2 separate regions of the Homo sapiens genome follow, and region 1 is linked to region 2. Evidence: fine-mapped expression QTL. A gene starts in region 2. The other region holds a variant in brackets. All regions are shown on one strand. Distances are from middle to middle.

Evidence for each region. PIP is the estimated chance that this variant, and not a neighbour inherited with it, causes the effect.
Region 1: its variant is the best candidate, but not a certain one, in a credible set for the expression of POLDIP2 in blood mononuclear cells (TOPMed, PIP 0.74).

Annotation. Positions count from the first base shown.
Region 1 is chr17:28,312,241-28,321,496 of GRCh38, reverse strand. TMEM97 (transmembrane protein 97) reads right to left here and starts at 2,297. Exons shown (of 3, transcript NM_014573.3): 1 at 2,132-2,297. The coding sequence starts at 2,257. RefSeq lists enhancers at 2,174-2,233, 2,714-2,973, 3,193-4,018. The variant G/A (reference allele first, on the strand shown) is at 3,855.
Region 2 is chr17:28,352,139-28,361,394 of GRCh38, reverse strand. POLDIP2 (DNA polymerase delta interacting protein 2) reads left to right here and starts at 3,868. Exons shown (of 11, transcript NM_015584.5): 1 at 3,868-4,107; 2 at 5,519-5,600; 3 at 6,810-6,907; 4 at 7,604-7,700; 5 at 8,079-8,154; 6 at 8,376-8,483. The coding sequence starts at 3,947. VMA12 (vacuolar ATPase assembly factor VMA12) reads right to left here and starts at 3,748. Exons shown (of 6, transcript NM_152464.3): 1 at 3,514-3,748; 2 at 2,406-2,479; 3 at 1,991-2,080; 4 at 824-866; 5 at 548-660; 6 at 1-238. The coding sequence starts at 3,724. The coding sequence ends at 143. MIR4723 (microRNA 4723) reads right to left here and starts at 741; the gene lies at 661-741. RefSeq lists enhancers at 3,491-3,590, 3,703-4,468 and a silencer at 3,781-4,170.

The sequences.
Region 1 (9,256 bases), 40 kb after region 2:
CACAGCACGCCAAGCCTGGGTGACAAAGGACCCTGTTTCTAAAAAAAAGACTGAGAAAATTTTATCAAATGTAAACATTTAAATGGGATCTTTATGATATGATGCTGAGCACCTTTTAAGTGTATTTTGTTAGGGGTGAGCAAGACGGGCTTGTGAGAATGGCACATCCAGGAAGGATAAAGAAGACAACAGCTGTGAAGTCTGGAATGGCTACATGGAGTAGCAGGCTAATTACCAAGTATTAAAAGGTCCTATAACACCAGAGATTGTAAACAGGCAGCCTGTCTGAGTATTGCTGGCCACACAGGTTTCAAAAACCACAGATAGGCCAACACTGTAGTAGATTTTCCTTTCTTCAGGGCAATTAATGGTTACTGCAGAGCTGCGATGACCTCTTCGGTCTTTGGGAAGAGTCTGTACTCTCTGGCCCTGTAGTAGGCTGAATAATGGCCCCCAAAGATAACCACATCCTAATCCCTGGAACCTGTGACTATTACTTTATTTGGCAAAAGGGACTTTGCAGATGTAATTAAGGATTTTGAAATGGGAGATTTTCTGGGTTATCTGGTGGGCCCTGAATGTATGACAAGTGTCTTTATAAAAGCGAAGCAGAGGGAACTCTGACTACAGAAAGGGAGGCAATGTGATGACCCGAAGCAGAGATTGAAGTGACGTGAACACAAGCCAAGGAACATTGGCAGCCACCAGAAAATGGAAGAGGCAAGAACCAGATTCTCCCCTGGAGCCCTCAGAAGGAGTGAGCCCTGCCTTGATTTGAGCACTGTAAGATTTCATTGTGAACTTCTGGCCTCCAGAACTGTAAACAAATAAATCTGTTAAATCACTACATTTGTGGTAACTACAACAGCAATATGAAAACTAACCCACCCTGTATATGTTTGAGCTTATAATTTAACTCAACTCTCTCAACAGTTGAGGAGGATATAGAGCCCTGACCTGCCCAAGTCACCTCCAGTTCTTGGAAGAACCAAGTCCCCAGACTGCAACTTGCTACACGCTACCTACGCTTTTCCCATGCAAAAGGAGGTCAGAGGTCTTCCAGTTGTGTTTGGTTCTAGAAGCAAACAAAAAAGAGTGACTTATGGGAGTGGTAGAACATTCTTGAGCCGTGGCCTTTTTGGGAGAGTTAGGCCCCTTGAAAAGTCGATGGAAGCTATATTCTCCTTGCAGGAAACAAAAGGCACACACACTTGCACCCATTTTTGGGAGTTCATGACCCTCAGGTAAAGAACCCCTCCTCGGCAGATAAAAAGCATTTAAGGAAAAACAGACGCAAAATAAAATCTTCGGGTAGACAAGTCAGTCCTGCCTACAGTTATAGATAAGATGGAGAAACAAAACTGAGGACAGGAATTCCATGGAAGAAGGTCACAGGGTCCAGATACGAGAAAAAAACCTCAACGAACCGGGAAACTAAAACTATAGCTTTGAAGAAAAAAACAAAGCATTAAAGCAGAGTTTGGGGTTGAAAGAATGCTCTCCAACAACCAGGAAATCGGGATTTTCACCTTTATTTTTACTCAGGAGATCATTGTTACTCGAACCCAATATTGAAGAGCCAATCTGAAAAGATGGCAATTTACTCCTGAGCTCTGGAAGTTGCTGGAACCTGATCTCGAAGCAGTGACGATCTGTGAACGCCCCAGCTGCACCAACCAAGGTGCTAAACCTTCAGACAGGTCTATTTCTACTCGGATTTTTTCTTTGGGATCAGACTGGTATTTTAAAGCCCTTCCAAACAAACAAACAAAAAACCAGAAGCTTAAAGCAAACCTAACATGTGACTTTGGACACCACTTCATCCAGACTACTTCCCTCAGACACTGACAACCGGCCAGAGGTGGAATCGCGGGAAACCTTAAACCCAGGGAAGAAGTGACTTTAAAGGAAACAAAGCGTTCGCCCCCGCCGCTTGGGAGAAGGGGCTGGGATAGAGACAAAGCCCGAGGAAAACACCGAACTAAAGTTGGGTTAGGAGCGGGGGAGGCATGGGCAGGACCCGAGAGAGGCAACTGGAACCCAGAGTGCGCGAGCGCGGAGGAGGTGAAGGCCCTGTGGACGCAGCGCCGGGAGAGCCTCAGCGGGCCGGGATAAGAGGGGCGCCCCTCACCTCGACTGGGTAGAGCTCGCGCGGCAGCACCGCCTGCAGGTCCATGAACAGGGTGATGGGGATGTGGCTGAGGAAGTAGAGGCCCAGCAGCCACTCCACGCAGCGCCTGGTTGCCGGAGCCCCCATAGTCTGTCGGTTGGGCCTGGACCCGCTGATGTGAGAAGAGGGGCCAAATCCGCGCGCCTTCCCAGACCCACGCGCCTCGGTCGCCGCCTTGCCCCCGCGAGGGCTAGGCAGACCGCTTCCATTGGCTGGCGAGAAGAGGAGGCTCGTGGACAGGGGGCGGCACTCCCCACAGGGCGCACCCATTGGTCCGTATAAGTATAGCGCGTGGAGAAGGCGTCTCGTAAGCCATTTCCATTGGCCGCCAGGAGCGCCGTGTGGGCGGGGCTTAGTCACGCCGTTCGGCGCGCGGCTACTCAGTGTAGATTGCGGTTGTGAGCGCGAGCCTAGCGTTTCGGTGCTGGCCGCGTGGTATCCTGGTGTCCCGGCAGCTGCCGGCGGCGCTCCCTTCCCTCGTGGCTCCGTTCGCCACTACAACAGCAGTATGAAAACTGCACTGGCCCTTGGGCCTTCTGCAGTAAGTCAGCATTAAAAAAATAAAGCTGACGCTGTGCACGGTGGGTCATGCCTGTAATGTCTGCACTTTGGGAGCCCGAGGCAGGAGGATGGCTTGAGCCCAGAAGACCAGCCTGGGTAACTTAGTAAGACATTATCTCTACAAAAAATAAAAAATTAGCCAGGTGTGGTGGTGTGCACCTGTAGTCCTAGCTAGTTCGTGTACTAGTGACCAGCGCCTGTGCTGGGCCGCGGTACCCCGGTGCAGTGCGGCCGTCACGGAGCAGGGGTCGCAGAGCGGGGCACGAGCGCCGCGGTGCAGGTTCCCGGCCCAGCCGGGGTTGCGGGTCTGGGGAGGCAGCTGGCCGCGGTGAACAAAGAAGCAGAGGGGAGGACTCGAGGGACGTAGGAGGCAGTAAAATGGACAGGAATCCTCACCGGCTGTGGAGCATGAGGGAAGGTCAAGGATTCGTTTACACGTTCAGCAAATACTGATGTTCATCTCCACGCTGGGCGCAGGCCTGTCTCGGGGCAGGATCGCCGAGGCTGCCATTTGCTAAGAGGGGACACAGGGCAAGGGAGTGCGAGGAAGGAATGCAGCTTGGACTACGTGGACCTTGAGTGGGCTGCAGCGTTGGGTGGAGGAGGCAGTTGGGTGAGCCTGTCTGGAGTCGTAAGCTTGTGAGGCATCCGCCTTTGATGGCGAGCAGAGGGCCTGGGAGAGATCCTGGGGGAGCTCCAGCCTCAGGTCATGGGAGGAGGGGACTGAGATAGGAGCGTACTAGCAGGGGGCTATGTCACAGGGAGGGGCAGCCTGTCAACACTGAGTGATGCCCGCCTGTGGCCCTGTGGGGAACAGTTGTGTCGTGGGGGCAGGAGCCAGGGAGTAAGAAAGTGGGGAAATGGAGGCAGGAAGTGTAGACAGCTGGTCACGAAGGGGAGAAGACATGGGGCAGTAGCTGGAGAGAGATGCACTCGAGAGTTTATTTTGCAGGTGAGAAAGACTTGAGCTAGTTTAGTTTTGACAGTGGGAGAGGTTACCCCTACTCGAGAAGAGCAGGAAATGCGGCTCAAAGCCCTGGAGGAGGCGGAGGGAATGGAAGGATTGGGGTGGGTTAGGTGGGTGCACTGCGCTCCGCCCAGCTTCCCCTTCCCTTGGGGCGCT[G/A]TGGGCTAGGACAGAGGGATTATGGCAGTGTTGAAGGCCCAGCTGAGGTGGGGGGCCGCTGACCCGGAGGCCCCAATCTCTTAGGCTGTGTGCTTTGCATTTCTCTAGTGCGGGGTCTACCCAGAAGAAGGCTGTTGGACCCCTACAGAGTTTGGGTTCAGAAAAGCGAAAGGTGGCTTTGAAGAGCTGAAGAAGAGTGATTGAGGTGCAGAAGGTTGCAGTTCAAGCTAGGTAGGGGGAGAGGGAGAGGTGAGGCCAAAGGGGGCTGTAAGACAGGGAGACAGTGGAGGCCTGCTGAGGAACACGTGCCAGCGTGATGGGAGTCACTGGGCCGGAAGGGTGGGAGCTTATGAGGAGGGCGTGCAATACCTGAATTCCTGGGGTCAGGAAGAGGTTCTGCCCGTGGGAGTGTGCGGCTGAAATGGAGTGGAGGGGAAGGTCTTTGGAGATGAGGTCAAGGGAAGGCCACCCAGGGTGGTGGTGGCGAAAATGCCACTGCACACGGGGGAGTAACCAGAAGGAAGGTGAGCATGGGATGAGAGTGGAGGGGAAACTGTGTGGACATGGCCTTGCGGAGGGAGGAGGCCGCTTATCCTGACCTTGAAGGGTGCGAGAAGGTGAATAGCCTGCGCTGGAGAGGGCTGTGGGGAAGCTGAGTCCTCAGCCAAGTGCCAGTTACTGGGGGAGGTAACAGTGGAGGGGTTTGGCTGGAGAGGAGGAGGAGCAGGTTGGAAGGAGACAGTAGGAGAAATGTGGAGGTCTTTGGGTGGGGAGCAGGGGATGAACAGCATGGGTGGCTGAGCATCGTGAGGGCACACAGTTCTGGCGTCCCCCAAGTCTCAGGTCAGCCTTGCCCAGGACCACAGAGCCGGCAGCCACAGGGAGGCAGGGGTGTTCAGGGCTGTTTGTCCTGCTCCGAGGGGGGAGCCGGGCTCCATGGAGAGAACACTCTACCAGGGGCTCAGGAGGGAGGACTCAGAATTAGCTGCTGCTTTTTTTCCAGGAAAAAAAAAAAAAGTCAATGCCTGGGAAACCTTAGGTCACCTGAGGAGAGAGCCCATTTTGTTCACACCATAAATCTTTAAAGGCAGTTTGCTCTTTCTCAGACTCCACTCTGTTCCCAGACTAACTACTCCTGTTAGTCACTTAGTAGCCATCTTGGTTATCAAATTGACCATTGAGTTATCACGGTGCTTGTGTTCAAGTAAGCCTTATGTTATTTAATAGTGGGCCAGGTGTGGTGGCTCATACCTGTAATCACTTTGGGAGGCCGAGGCAGGAGGACCCCTTGAGGCCAGGAGTTTAAGACCAGCCTGGGCAACATAGCAAGACCCCATCTCTTAAAAAAAAATTAGCTGGGCATGGTGGCTTGCCTGTAGTCCCAGCTACTTAGGAGGCTGAGGTGGGAGGATCTCTTGAGCCCAGGAGTTTGAGGCAGCAGTGAGCTGTGATCACCTCACTGCACTCCAGCCTCCACAACAGTGAGACCCCTCTCAAAGGCCCTAAAGTGCAATGGTAGCGATGTGACAATTCGGATATGCCAATGAGAAACCATAAAGTTCCTTTATGTGAAAAGGTGAAGATTTTTGATTTAGGAAATAATGCTGAGGTTGCTAAGATCTAGAGAACAGTAAGATATTTTGAGAGAGAGCACATTCACATACTATTTATTACAGTATATTGTTATACTTGTTCTATTTTATTGTTAATGTCTTACTGTGCTTGATTTATAAATTAAACTTTATCATAGGTTTGTATGTATAGGAAAAAACAATATGGTTCAGTACTACCTATGGTTTCAGGCCTCCACTGGGGGTCTTGGAACATGTTCCCCCACGGATAAGGGGGACTTTTGTATACAGCTCCTCTCTCACTTCTCCAAACCATTCACTTGAATGAGAACATGAAGGCTGGGCGCAATGGTTCACACGTGTAATCCCAGCAGAGGCCAAGGCAGGTGGATTACCTGAGGTCAGGAGTTCCAGACCAGCCTCACCAACATGGTGAAACCCAAACTCTACTAAAAGTACAAAAGTTAGCCAGGCATGGTGGTGCACACCTACAGTCCCCGCTACTCAGGAGACTGAGGCAGGAGAATCACTTGAACCTAGGAGGCAGAGGTTGCAGAGTCATGATAGCACCATTGCACTCCAGCCTGGGCGACAGAACAAAACTCTGTCTCAGAAAAAAAAAAAAGGCTGGGCATGGTGACTCAGGACTGTAATCCCAGCACTTTAGGAGGCTGAGGTGGGTGGATCACCTGAGGTCAGGAGTTCAAGACTGGCCTGGCCAACATGGTGAAAATCCATCTCTACTAAAAATACAAAAATTAGCCAGGCATAGTGGCGTGCACCTGTAGTCCTAGCTACATGGGAAGCTGAGGCAGGAGAATCACTTGAACCTGGGAGGTGGAGGTTGCAATGAGCCAGGATCGCACCACTGCACTCTAGCCTGAGTGACAGAGTGAGACTCCGTCTCAAAAAAAAAAAAAAAAAAATGGAACATGAAGAGCTGGGAGGGCCTTTGTAGATATCTAGGGCCTAACACCTCATGAGGAAACTGAGACTCAGAGAGGTGTTTGTCCGAGGTCACAAAGTGAGTGACAAGGCAGGGACTGGAACCCTGGTATCCTAACGCCCAGCCCCAGGCCAAGTCTTCTATCCCTAGGGCAGAGCAGTGCCTTCCCGCACAGGGTCTTCAGACCAAACCCAGGGCCCAGGAGAGGTCTGGCTAGGTTGGCACACTACACAGCTGGAGAGGCCTGGCAGCACTGCTCCCACCCTCCATCCATTATGGCTTTAAGGATATGGTGGTACCATATCCTTTTAATTTACCTTGGGGTGGGTTAGGTGTGTGCTCTGCGCTCCACCCAGCTTCCCCTTCCCTTAGGAAGTTATAATTAAGTTCCCTGTAGAACTTAATTATAACTGCTTGCTGGAGGGCAATGGGGCCGGAGGAGTGTGGGCTAGGATTTGTCCAGGAAATGTGGTAAGTACAGGTGTCAATGTGACAGTTTCTCAGAAAACATCTCATCCAGCCCTGGCAACATAGTGAGACCCCCATTTCTATAACAAAAATTAGCCGATGTGGTGGTACGCACCTATAGTCCCAGCTACTCAAGAGGCTGAGGTGGGAGGATGGTTTGAACCCAGGAGTGATCACACTACTACACTCCTGCCTGGGTAACAGAGTGAGACCCTGCCTCAAAACAAAAAACCCCAAATGTCACCTAGCCAAATTTGTTACCTATAAAGATTTTCAAGGCCAAGCACTTTCAGTGGATGGTTCCTCTGTCCAAAAACATTCTGTCCAGCTGTTTGAAATTTCTTTAGTAGGGGACCATAGCTCTTAATTTGATGAGGTCAGATAAGTCTTAGAATGCAAATGGCTCTAAGAGAGGTCAACTGAGGAAGACAACAGTGTGGAAAGAATGACCCTGTCCTTATGAGAACAATGTTTAGTGCCTTTAAAAAAGTATTTATATTGTGACAAGACAAACACCATTAGCCTAACAGTGGACCCAATGATGGCAGAAAGCGAATTCTAGCATTGTAACCCCAGCTGAAAGGTACTTGGAGCAGGCCATGCCAAATTGGCCACTTGCCTCTTTGGCAGCAACTGTACAAAGCTCTTTCTTCACCTCTCAACTTTTGCTTCACTTTTCTGTCTACTTAAAATGCACCCACCCTTCTCACCCCACCCCTGCTTACCTCCCCCATCTCTATGTATTTTACTATTTGGCTGAAGGCCACCCTACCCCCGCCCCCAATTGCCTCTATTTGGTGGCACTGTTACATCCTCTGAACCTGTTTCCGAAAGTTTGTCCCTTTCCACTGAGCAACACTGATTGGAGCCCATGTCTCTGGACATATTTCCCACTAGATCGTAGATTCCTTGAAAAGTATAAAAACTGTTTATATTTTTCACTGTTTTAAAACTTACCCTTTTAAAAATTAGGAGCCACAACACCAAGTCAAAAAGAATAAGAAATAAACACATCATCAAAATTATTTATTATACAAGAAAAATTATCAATACATCTTTCAGTTCTTTAAAATGGTTATCAGCAATTCTAAGTCCTGTCTTCATTAATAATTCACTGTATGACCTCATGCAAATCATGTCATATTCCTCATTCTTTGTACCTTCATTTGTAAAATGAACTTGAACTAGACACTCTTTCAGGCCATTTCTTGGTCTAAAATCCCACAAATTTGCAGATTTAAGCTGAATTAAAGTTACCCTATTAAAAAGGCTAATTGATTTCTTTAACGTTAATGCAAAAACATAAACACCATCAACTCCCACAAAAGTAAACAATCACAGTATCACAACAATCATAGTAATCCCTGGTAGTGAAGCACAAAACTTTTTCCTCCTACTGCTAAAATAAATGTAGTCTCATCACAATGACACGAACACCAAGTAAAAGCAAACAAAATACTAGGTGTCACTGGGGTTAGTGATGACTTTTTAATTGGAAAACCAAAGGCACACCCATGAAAGAAGGAATTGGTAAGTTAGACTTTATTAAAATTTAAAACTTCTACTCTGCAAAAGACACTGTCAAAGGGAAGACAAGACACTTTGGCAGTTTCTTACGAAGTTAAACCTATTTTTACCGTTCAATCCAGCAATCACACTCCTTAGTATTTAACTAAAGGAGCTGAAAATTTATGTCTACCCAAAAACCAAAACACCAATATTTATAGCATTCTTTATTCATAATTGCCAAAACTTGGCAGCAATTCAGGTGTCCTTTGGTAGGTGAATAGATAAGCAAACTGTGATATGCCAGACAGTGGAGTATTATTTATGGCTAAAAAGAAATGAGCTATCAAGCCAGGAGAGACATGGAGGAATCTTGGATACATATTCAGCAGTATGTGAAAGAAGCCAATCTGAAAAGGCTACATAACGATTGGAAATATATGGCATCCTAGAAAAGGCAAAACTACGGAAACAGTAAAAAGATCAGTACTTGCCAGGAATTTGAAGGGAAGAAAGTAAAGGGATGAACAGGTGACACTGGGGATTTTTTGAGCAGTGAAATTATTCTCTATGATACTATAATGATAGATAAATGTCACTATACATTTTCCAAAATGCATAGAACTACACCAGAAGTGGACCTTTCATCTATTGTAACAAATGTATTATAACAAATGTGTAGGAGGCCATGTCTTTACTTTCAGCTCAAATTTGCTGTGAACCTAAAGCTACTTGAAAAAAATAAAGTCTATTTATATAAAAGTAAACAAAACAAAAGTTAATAATTACAATAAACTCATATGCAATATTTCTGAAGCACATCTTCCAAACAGCATGTGTATTTTAAAATTTTAAAACTTTACTAAAAAACTGGTAACAAATTGAAAACAATGGTTACCTCTAAGAAATGA
Region 2 (9,256 bases):
CAGAAACAGCAGCTGGCCTGGGCTGGTCTTCTGACTAACTGGAGCTGAATACAAAAAGTCTGATGGGTTGACTGAGTCGGTGACTGCCAATTGGAGCCTGAAGCCCCCAAAGTCTTCTCTAGACTTGATGATGAAGCACCAGTTACAGTTCTCCCAGCTCGCCTTCCATTGCCCGCACCATGACATACAGCTCGGCCAGACCCACCACAGAGGCGACGATCAATGCAGCTAGCACCCGCTGGAGATGGGGAGAACCAGGCTTAAGGGATGCAGGCCAACAACCAGCTCTGTACCCCAGCAACTTTAATGAGGATGGAGAGCCCCCCAACCACCCTCTAAGTTGGGGGAGGGGAAGAAAAGAGAATGTGGCTTCTCCTGGGGTTATTACCTAACCTCCCGTGACTGCTGGAAAGCTCTAATGCTCCCCTTATTAATGGCATAAATATCTGTTCAATACCTAACCTGTGCAAGGCACTTTCACATACGTCCTCCCTTACCCACTAACACCCCCACCAGGGGCACCCTGCCCTGCCCAGTGCCTACTCACCGAGGCCATTTCTGTGAAGATATATTGGCTTCCAAGGTAAGTGCAGACGAAGGCAGCAACCACCGTGACAATGAAATTGAAGATGGTGATGACCAGAGCCTTCAATGATCTCACTTTGGGGAGGAGCCAGAGAGGGCACCTTTAGTTCAACATTCTCTAGGAGGTGCTCTTATCTCATGGCTCCCCCACCAACTGGGTTTCAGTCAAACAACAAGCCTGAGTGTCATGACCCATCTCAGGAAAAGGTTTTAGAAGCCTGATCTCCTAGTACCTCACCTTGCTTTCCCAGGTCGCTGAGAGTCCCACCATGTCTTGTATCCTGGGAAAAAGAAAAAGAAGATGATTCAGAATAGAAGCAGCTCAGAGAGCATCCATTGACAGTCTGGCTCAGCCCTCTCTATTCCCCAACATATTAACTCTGCCCTCCCCATGGATTCTTTTGTCTGGAACCATTTTGACTCTTTTCTGGACTACAGAGCAGGCATTTCGGAGAGAGGACATAGGCTGCCAGTACCCATCTACTCTCCTGTTCCAGGGTAGGAGCATGCCATAGAGTAGTAGGGAGCCCTGTCAGAAGAAATGCTCGAATGGCTGGGCACAGTGGCTCACCTTGTAATCCCAGCACTTTGGGAGGCCGAGGCAGGAGGATCACCTTGAGGCTGGGAGTTCAAGACCAGCCTGGCCAACGTGGTCTCTACTAAAAATACAAAAAATTAGCCTGGCGTGGTGGTGCATGCCTGTAATCCCAGCTACTTGGGAGGCTGAGGCATAAGAATCACTTAAACCTGGAAGGCGGAGGCCGCAGTGAGCAGAGATCCTGCCACTGCCCTCCAGCCTGGGTGACAGAGTGAGACTCCATCTCAAAAAAAAAAAAGAAGAAGAAAAAAAGCCTCCAAGATTCATTCCCACTTATTTATTTATTTATTTATTTATTTTGAGATGGAGTCTTGCTCTTGTTGCTCAGGCTGGAGTGCAATGGTGCAGTGTTGGCTCACAGCAGCCTCTGCCTCCGCCTCCTGGGTTCAAGTGATTCTCCTGCCTCAGCCTCTCGAGTAGCTGGGATTACAGGTGCCCGCCACCACGCCAGGCTAAGTTTTGTATTTTTTGTAAAGACGGGGTTTCACCATGTTGGCCAGGCTGGTCACGAACTCCCGACCTCAAGTGATCCACCTACCTCAGCCTCCCAAAGTGCTAGGATTACAGGCATGAGCGCCGTGCCCGGCTAACTCCCACTTCTATGACGTTTAAAACTTGGTCACCATCTCAGCCCAGAGTCTCAGTGAATGAGATGGGAACTGTGTTGTTTGTATGCAGACTTCCTATGGTCCCTGAACAGTATAGAAACCAAGTTTCCATGTTTTTTCTAAACTCTGTATCTTCTTCCACTGCAGGGCCCTACTCTGAGGGGCTACCTAGACCACGTACTGAAGAGCATGTCCTTACCTGACAAGTGACGTTGCGGGTGATCCGTTTATATTCCTCATTGGCCAGCTGTATCTTAATCTTCTCCAGCCGGGCAACTAGTTCTGGGTTCTGAAGCAGAAAAATCAAATGAGAAGAATGATATTCCCAGCTTGTTAGAAAGCACATCACAATCATTGGTTCCAGGGGTAAAGCACTGCTAAAGGTATCAGGAGACCCACATACTAGTCGTAACTCCAGTGCTTTGAAACTGTTTTTTTTTTTTTTGATCTCAATTTTCCAAACAGCTGATGGGGAGGACAATATCTGGCTCCCCCAGATCCCAAAGATTTCAAAAACAATTTTTCAAGCCTAAAAGTTGATTTATAAGTTCAGTGTATCATGGATAAGCCCAACTCAGTCAATAACCACTCTCACAAACATATCCCTTACATACCCGTGGAGGCTTCACAACCTCTGGGAGATAGATTTCACTGCCTTCTAGGAGCTCATGGAGGTATAGTTTGGAATCTGAGAAGAAAAGGTTTCACAAACACAATGATCCACGAGCTGAGGTTGAAGGGTTAAGATCAAGAGGGGTGTAGCCCTTCTTTCTACCAAAATAAAACAGGGCCATCTCTACATTAATCCATTTCCAGGATCATTTTCAATTGAAAAGAATTTTGGATAATTCCATGTAGGTATCTCCCAGTGCTGCGCAGGTGACTTTAGCTGTCAGCTCTCAATTATCCTGCCAGTGTTATAACTAACAAGTAAGCCATTTACTTGTGCCTTTGGGTTAGATCAGTTCTGTGGCCACAACAGCTCTTCCCTAAATAAGTTTAGGTCATAGTGATGCTAAATGCTCAGAGGACACTAATACTAGGCAATCTCTTTCTAAGGTCCTTTCTAGTTCTAATAATTGAGCAGTCTACCCTTTGCACTTCTGGCTGGTCTATGTTACTTCTGGCAAAATACCTTATGTGCTAGTTTGTCCTGTTCCTTCCCTTTACACATAAGGGAACTGAGGCCCAGCGAGGAGAAATGACTCCTTCAAAGGATTAGTGACAGAGCTAGGACTGGAACTCACATGCTACTCTCAGGCCAGATCTTTCAACACAGCTTTTGCCATCCTATATTAAAAAAACAAACAAACAAAACAAAGTATCAGATTTCACCACTCTTGCTTTTGAGGTGGAAAGAAATCCGGATTCCTACAAGCTCACTATGCTAAGCTGATTCCTAAAGTGGAGAAAAAGAAGAGACAAAACCTGTGATATTTGTATTTGGTAAAAACCTAGACTTTCTCAAGGGTGAATTGGGCCTAGGTGTGCCTGGAAGTGAAGAGGGGGCTCTCAAAAGAGCAGAAACTGCACAAGCAAATTTGTCATCCACGAGAAATTCCCATGGGAGTTAAGAAAGTGGGTGGCCCTGGGATTTATGGAGTGACTCTTGACTTGTCTAGATGAGTGCTCCGTAGAAGAAGGGGAATGATGGGAAAAGACCTCAGGAGGGAATCGATCTGGACACAAGGAGGGGACCCCGGACTGGAGACTGGGGCTCACCCCTTTCTCTCAGATGCTGGTGCAGATCCCGGATGAGACGGAAAGAAACCAAGCGTTGGGGGCCACTGGAGCTATCACCGCCCTTGTGCTTCTTCCCCAGCGCGGCCTCAAGCTCGGCCCGCAGCTTTCGGGGTAGCCGCTCTGGCTCCAGCTCCCCGCCGGGGCCCAAAGCACGCACCAATCGCTCGCCCGCAAGCAAAGAGGACGCCATATCTAGCCGGCTCTCCGGTCAGGTGACCCCAACCCGGACTTCCGCCCGCCGCGCGCCGGAAGTAACGCTAAGCGCACCGGAAGTTGCTCTGAGCTCCGGGGTGGGACCAGGCGGGCCAAGAGGGCCGGGACGCCGCGCGGGGCAGTGTGGGACTGGGGCGGAACGCCGCCCGGCCGCGGGTCGGGCTCTGTGTCAGCAGCCGGGCGGGCGCTCGGGCGGGACATGGCAGCCTGTACAGCCCGGCGGGCCCTGGCCGTGGGCAGCCGCTGGTGGTCCCGGTCGCTGACTGGGGCCCGGTGGCCAAGGCCGCTCTGTGCGGCGGCCGGAGCTGGAGCCTTCTCGCCAGCGTCGACCACGACGACGCGGAGGCACCTCTCGTCCCGGTGAGGGACGGAGCCAGGGGGCGCGAGGAACTGGGCCTGGAGCCCAGAGAGCGTGTTCCTAGCCAGTGCGGAGGCCAGGGGCCCGGGCCTGCTGAGGGTGACTGGAGTTTGACCCGGGAGAGGGTCCCGAGCAGGGAGCCGACCTGCGCTGTCTGGGACATGTGCCAGGAGCAGGGAAGCCAGCGCGGCCCAGAGCCCTGGTTGTACAGGGCTGGCCCTGGGGGGGAACAGGTTACCCTCCCCAAGTGAATCCTACTTCCCCGGCTGGGGTCCCCAGCACCGATGTCAGAGGGAAGCTTTTTAATTCAGCCCTAGGGCATTGGCTTGAACCCTCAGCCTTTGGATTTGGTGAAGGTCTGCCTCAGAAAGATGCTAGAGGTGGGAAACGAGACTCTTGGGTGTGGACCCTCGTAGGCCCCAGGTTTCCAAGTGACTTTGGGGAGATCGATTTTCTATCTGTGACTTGGGGAAGGGGGTTTGAGGCCATGGGGATGGTGTGGAAACTGTTTCCACGGATGGGACAGGCGGATCAAATGGGCTGGTGGATCAGTGGGAGGAAGCATAAAGTTCACATCTTCAAAACAGTAAAAACAGCCTTTATTTGAAGGGCCCCTAGAAAGAGCAGCCCTGTTCAGAGTGGTGACTGACATTTTAGTGGCTGATATTAGACACTGAACATTGGGGAGAGATGATAGCTATTTGCAATTTAAGACCCCTGTGAGAATATGAACAAAAACGGTATTGAGAGAGCGATGTGCCGTAGGAAATCTAGAGATGTTTAAGCTTTTCAAGGGCAATGTAAGGGCTACAGGTTAGAGGGGGAGATGGACATGGAATTATAATACAGGACAAATATTTTTTGAGCACCTCTTGTACACTAGGCTCTGAGGGGGCAGTACCAGCTAATCAGACTCAGGCATTGCTCCCAGGGAATTTACAGTATTTAATAAAGATAAGACATGGACACAACTGAAATGTAAAGGGAGCAGGATATTGTTTGATGACTTGTGATATAGAAAATGTAAGAAAAGAAGAAAAAAAGATACTCCCCTTCTAAAAAAATTGAAAAAGTGAGCAAGACAGTTAAAGTGCTGTGGGAGGTCAGGAGGGTGGGTTAGGGAAGAAACAAGGGCAGGGGTACATTTGAGCAGAGTGTGAGGGCATGATATGAAGAATGCCCAGTGAAGAGAGAAGACAGTAGTATGGGAGCGGTCACATCTAACACTGGGAGACTGTGGAGGTTTTCACCAAGGAGGAGGAAAGCCTTTCCTGCTCCAGCTGGTCCCACTACCCCAAACCCTTCTCTGCTGTCATCGCCCTGGCCCCTCAGTATCCTAGGAGCTTTTTCTTATGGATAACTACCATTACCTTCTCAGCTTTTCTGTTGCTTGTTCTTTTCCTTCCTACTCAGAAACCGACCAGAGGGCAAAGTGTTGGAGACAGTTGGTGTGTTTGAGGTGCCAAAACAGAATGGAAAATATGAGACCGGGCAGGTGAGTATTGGGCTGGGTCATCTTTCATTTTCATAGAGTGCTCTGCTTCTGAAAAAAGTCAGATTAGGTCACAGGCCTGCATGGTATGGTGTTCCATTCATTCCACCTTGATGTTTGGTGCCATTCCAGAATCAAATTTGTATTCATTTTTTATTTTATTTATTTATTTTATTTATTTATTTTTTGTGAGACGGAGTTTCAGTCTTGTTGCCCAGGCTGGAGTGCAATGGCATGGTCTCGGCTCACTGCAAGCTCCACCTCCTGGGTTTAAGCAGTTCTCCTACCTCAGCCTCCCTAGTAGCTGGGATTACAAGCATGCGCCACCACACTTGGCTAATTTTGTACTTTTAGTGGAGATGCGGTTTCTCCATGTTGGTCAGGCTGGTCTCGAGCTCCCGACCTCAGGTGATCCACCTGCCTTGGCCTCCCAAAGTCCTGGGATTACTGGCGTGAGCCACCGCACCCAGCCCAGAATCAAATTTTTATAGATAGGGTTTCTGTTCTCCTGGATTTGAATGCACTTAATGTGTCAGTGGGTTCTCTTTCCAAGTTAATGTGGACAGGGATGGTGTGGACTATAGTGAGGTTTAGCCAAGTTGCTGAAGATTTCTCTAACATAGTGGATGGTGGGAAGCCGTGGAGGGAGCTTTCAGAAAAGTATACCTTTGATGCTTTGCCGTAATAAAATTGACTTCAGTGTGGTAAACTCTGGATGTGTGGTTCTTTTTCTATATCAGCTTTGTTCTGGGTCCACTGGGATAGATTTAGGCCCTTCTAGGATATTGTAGGTAAGGAAGACTTTTTGTTTGTTCAACATTTTATTTTTCTGTGTGCCTACAATGGACTAGGCATTGTGCATTAGGGTTAAATCAGAAAGCAAAGTAGACATGATTCCTGCTATTGTGGAGTTTCTAGTCTAGAAAAGAACGATTTGCAAATGGCCAATAGCTGTACATTGTGCTAAGTGGAAGGGAGGTCAGGGAAGGCTTCCTGGAGGCCTAAGCTTTTACCTAAAGGATGAGTAGAGTCAGCCAGGTAAAGAAGAAATAAGAGTGTTCCAGCATTGGTCTGGTTGATCACAGACTTCAAGGGAAGAGGTAGCAAGACCTTGTGCTGGAGTTGCCTCCACCTGTGTTGCTTTGTGGTCTGGGGCCCACCTGGATGGATTTGCTGGACTGCAGACTCACTGAGGCCCCTCTTTCCTTCCAGCTTTTCCTTCATAGCATTTTTGGCTACCGAGGTGTCGTCCTGTTTCCCTGGCAGGCCAGACTGTATGACCGGGATGTGGCTTCTGCAGCTCCAGAAAAGTAAGTTTCCCTGTGGTTGTGCCTCACAGTATCCTCAGGAGGAGATGGCAGACATATGTAATTGGGGTACTAGGGGTGAAGACAGCGTCCTCCTAGGCCTTGGAAACATCCCCAGAGTACTTCTCTGGGACTAAGACCCATGGAGACAAAAGTGCTGAGTGCCAGGGATAGTCTAAGTCAGAGAGTCCCTTTAGGCCTCCTCAGAATGCTTTCCTAAGCCATTCCTAATTTTCATTATGAGTATCCCAGAGGGCATTTGGGGGACAAGTCTTCTTGATTTCTTGATGTTCAGCTGGAGTCTTTCCCTCAATCTCACATCATCCCTAGAATACATTAAAACAGAAAAGGTTCAGCCCCATTAAGTGATCACAGACAGTCCCTGGGATATAAGAAGACAAGAGTACTCTGGGCCCTGGGGACTGAGGTGGCAATTTGATTTTCTCAACATGGCCCCCTTCTTTTAAGAGGTATCCACACGGTCAGATGATGGCTCCATACCATGGTCTTCCATGCTCTATTATTTGCCCCAACTGAGGAGCAGCTGAGCTGAGGTGCTGCAGAGCAGGTGTCCAGCTGGTGCTAAAGCCCCTTTAGATCAGAGACCAGCCTGTTTAGGTGAGGAGGAGTAGGGAGCTGAGTCAGCCACAGCTTCCATTTCTCCTGGGGTGATCTTGGCCTCCTTCTCCCACCCCATAGAGCAGAGAACCCTGCTGGCCATGGCTCCAAGGAGGTGAAAGGCAAAACTCACACTTACTATCAGGTGCTGATTGATGCTCGTGACTGCCCACATATAGTAAGTAAGCAAGATGGCTGGGCTTGGGGGTCCTCTCCATGGAAAGTCCTGCATCCCAATGGGGACAAAGGGAGGGAAGGGGGTCAAACAGAGCCCAGGTCAGTCTTGGTCCCCAAGGCCTTGGACTGCACAGTGGCCAACAAAGCCCTGATTCACGTCTTTTTTTTTTTTTTTGATATGGAGTCTCACTCTGTCGCCAGGCTGGAGTGCAGTGGTGAGATCTCAGCTCACTGCAACCTCTGCCTCCCGGGTTCAAGTGATTCTCCTGCCTCAGCCACCCGAGTAGCTGGGATTACAGGCATCTGCCACCACACCAGCCTAATTTTTGTACTTTTTAGCAGAGACATGGTTTCACCACTGATTCACTTCTTGCCTTAGTCTCAGAGATCTCAGACAGAAGCTGTGACCTTCTTGGCTAACCATGATGACAGTCGGGCCCTCTATGCCATCCCAGGTGAGTAGTTAGCATTTGAATGGTGCCCGTCAAGAAGGAGTCTGGTGTGTCTCAGGGAGAGGATTCTGATGTCCTGTCATCCACTGGGAGGGATTATGATGCTGAGAGGTATGATATCAGGGTTATCCCATACTGGAACAAGGCCAGTTAATGTTTCTTCTCAACCCCATCTCTCTCCTCTCCTGTGAGTTTCACCACTGTCTTTTGCATCTCTGTGCCAGGCTTGGACTATGTCAGCCATGAAGACATCCTCCCCTACACCTCCACTGATCAGGTTCCCATCCAACATGAACTCTTTGAAAGATTTCTTCTGTATGACCAGACAAAAGGTAATCTCTCTCAAGAAGGGGAGGTGGAATGGGAGGGCCTTTTCATCAAAGAATATCATAGAAATAATTCCAGGGCCGGGCACGGTGGCTCACGCCTGTAATCCCAGCACTTTGGGAGGCCCAGGCAGGTGGATCATCTGAGGTCAGGAGTTCAAGACTGGCCTGGCCAACCTGGTGAAACCCTGTCTCTACTAAAAATACAAAAATTAGCTGGGCGTGGTGGTGGGCGCCTGTAATCCCAGCTACCTGGGAGGCTGAGGCAGGAGAATCACTTGAACCCAGGAGGGTGGAGGTTGCAGTGAGCCGAGATTGCACCATTGCATTCCAGCCTGGGCAACAGAGCGAGACTCCATCTCAGGAAAAAAAAAAAAAAAGGCCCGGGTGCTTGTGGCTCACGCCTATAACTCCAGCACTTTGGGAGGCTGACACGGGCAGATCACTAGGTCAAGAGATCAAGACCATCGTGGCCAATGTGGTGAAACCCTGTTTCTACTAAAAATATAAAAATTAGCTGGGTGTGGTGGCGTGCACCTGTAGTCTCAGCTACTTGGGAGGCTGAGGCTGAAGAATTGCTTGAACCCGGGAGGCACAGGTTGTAGTGAGCTGAGATCATGCCACCGCACTCCATCCCGGCAACAGATCAAGACTCCGTCTCCAAAAAAAAAAAAAAAAAAGAAATAATTCCAACGCTCTATTTCCACAACCCTTTTCAACCTCCTGTTAGAGCTGTCATGCCTCATAGGTGTCATACCTGACAGATGACAGATGGCAGT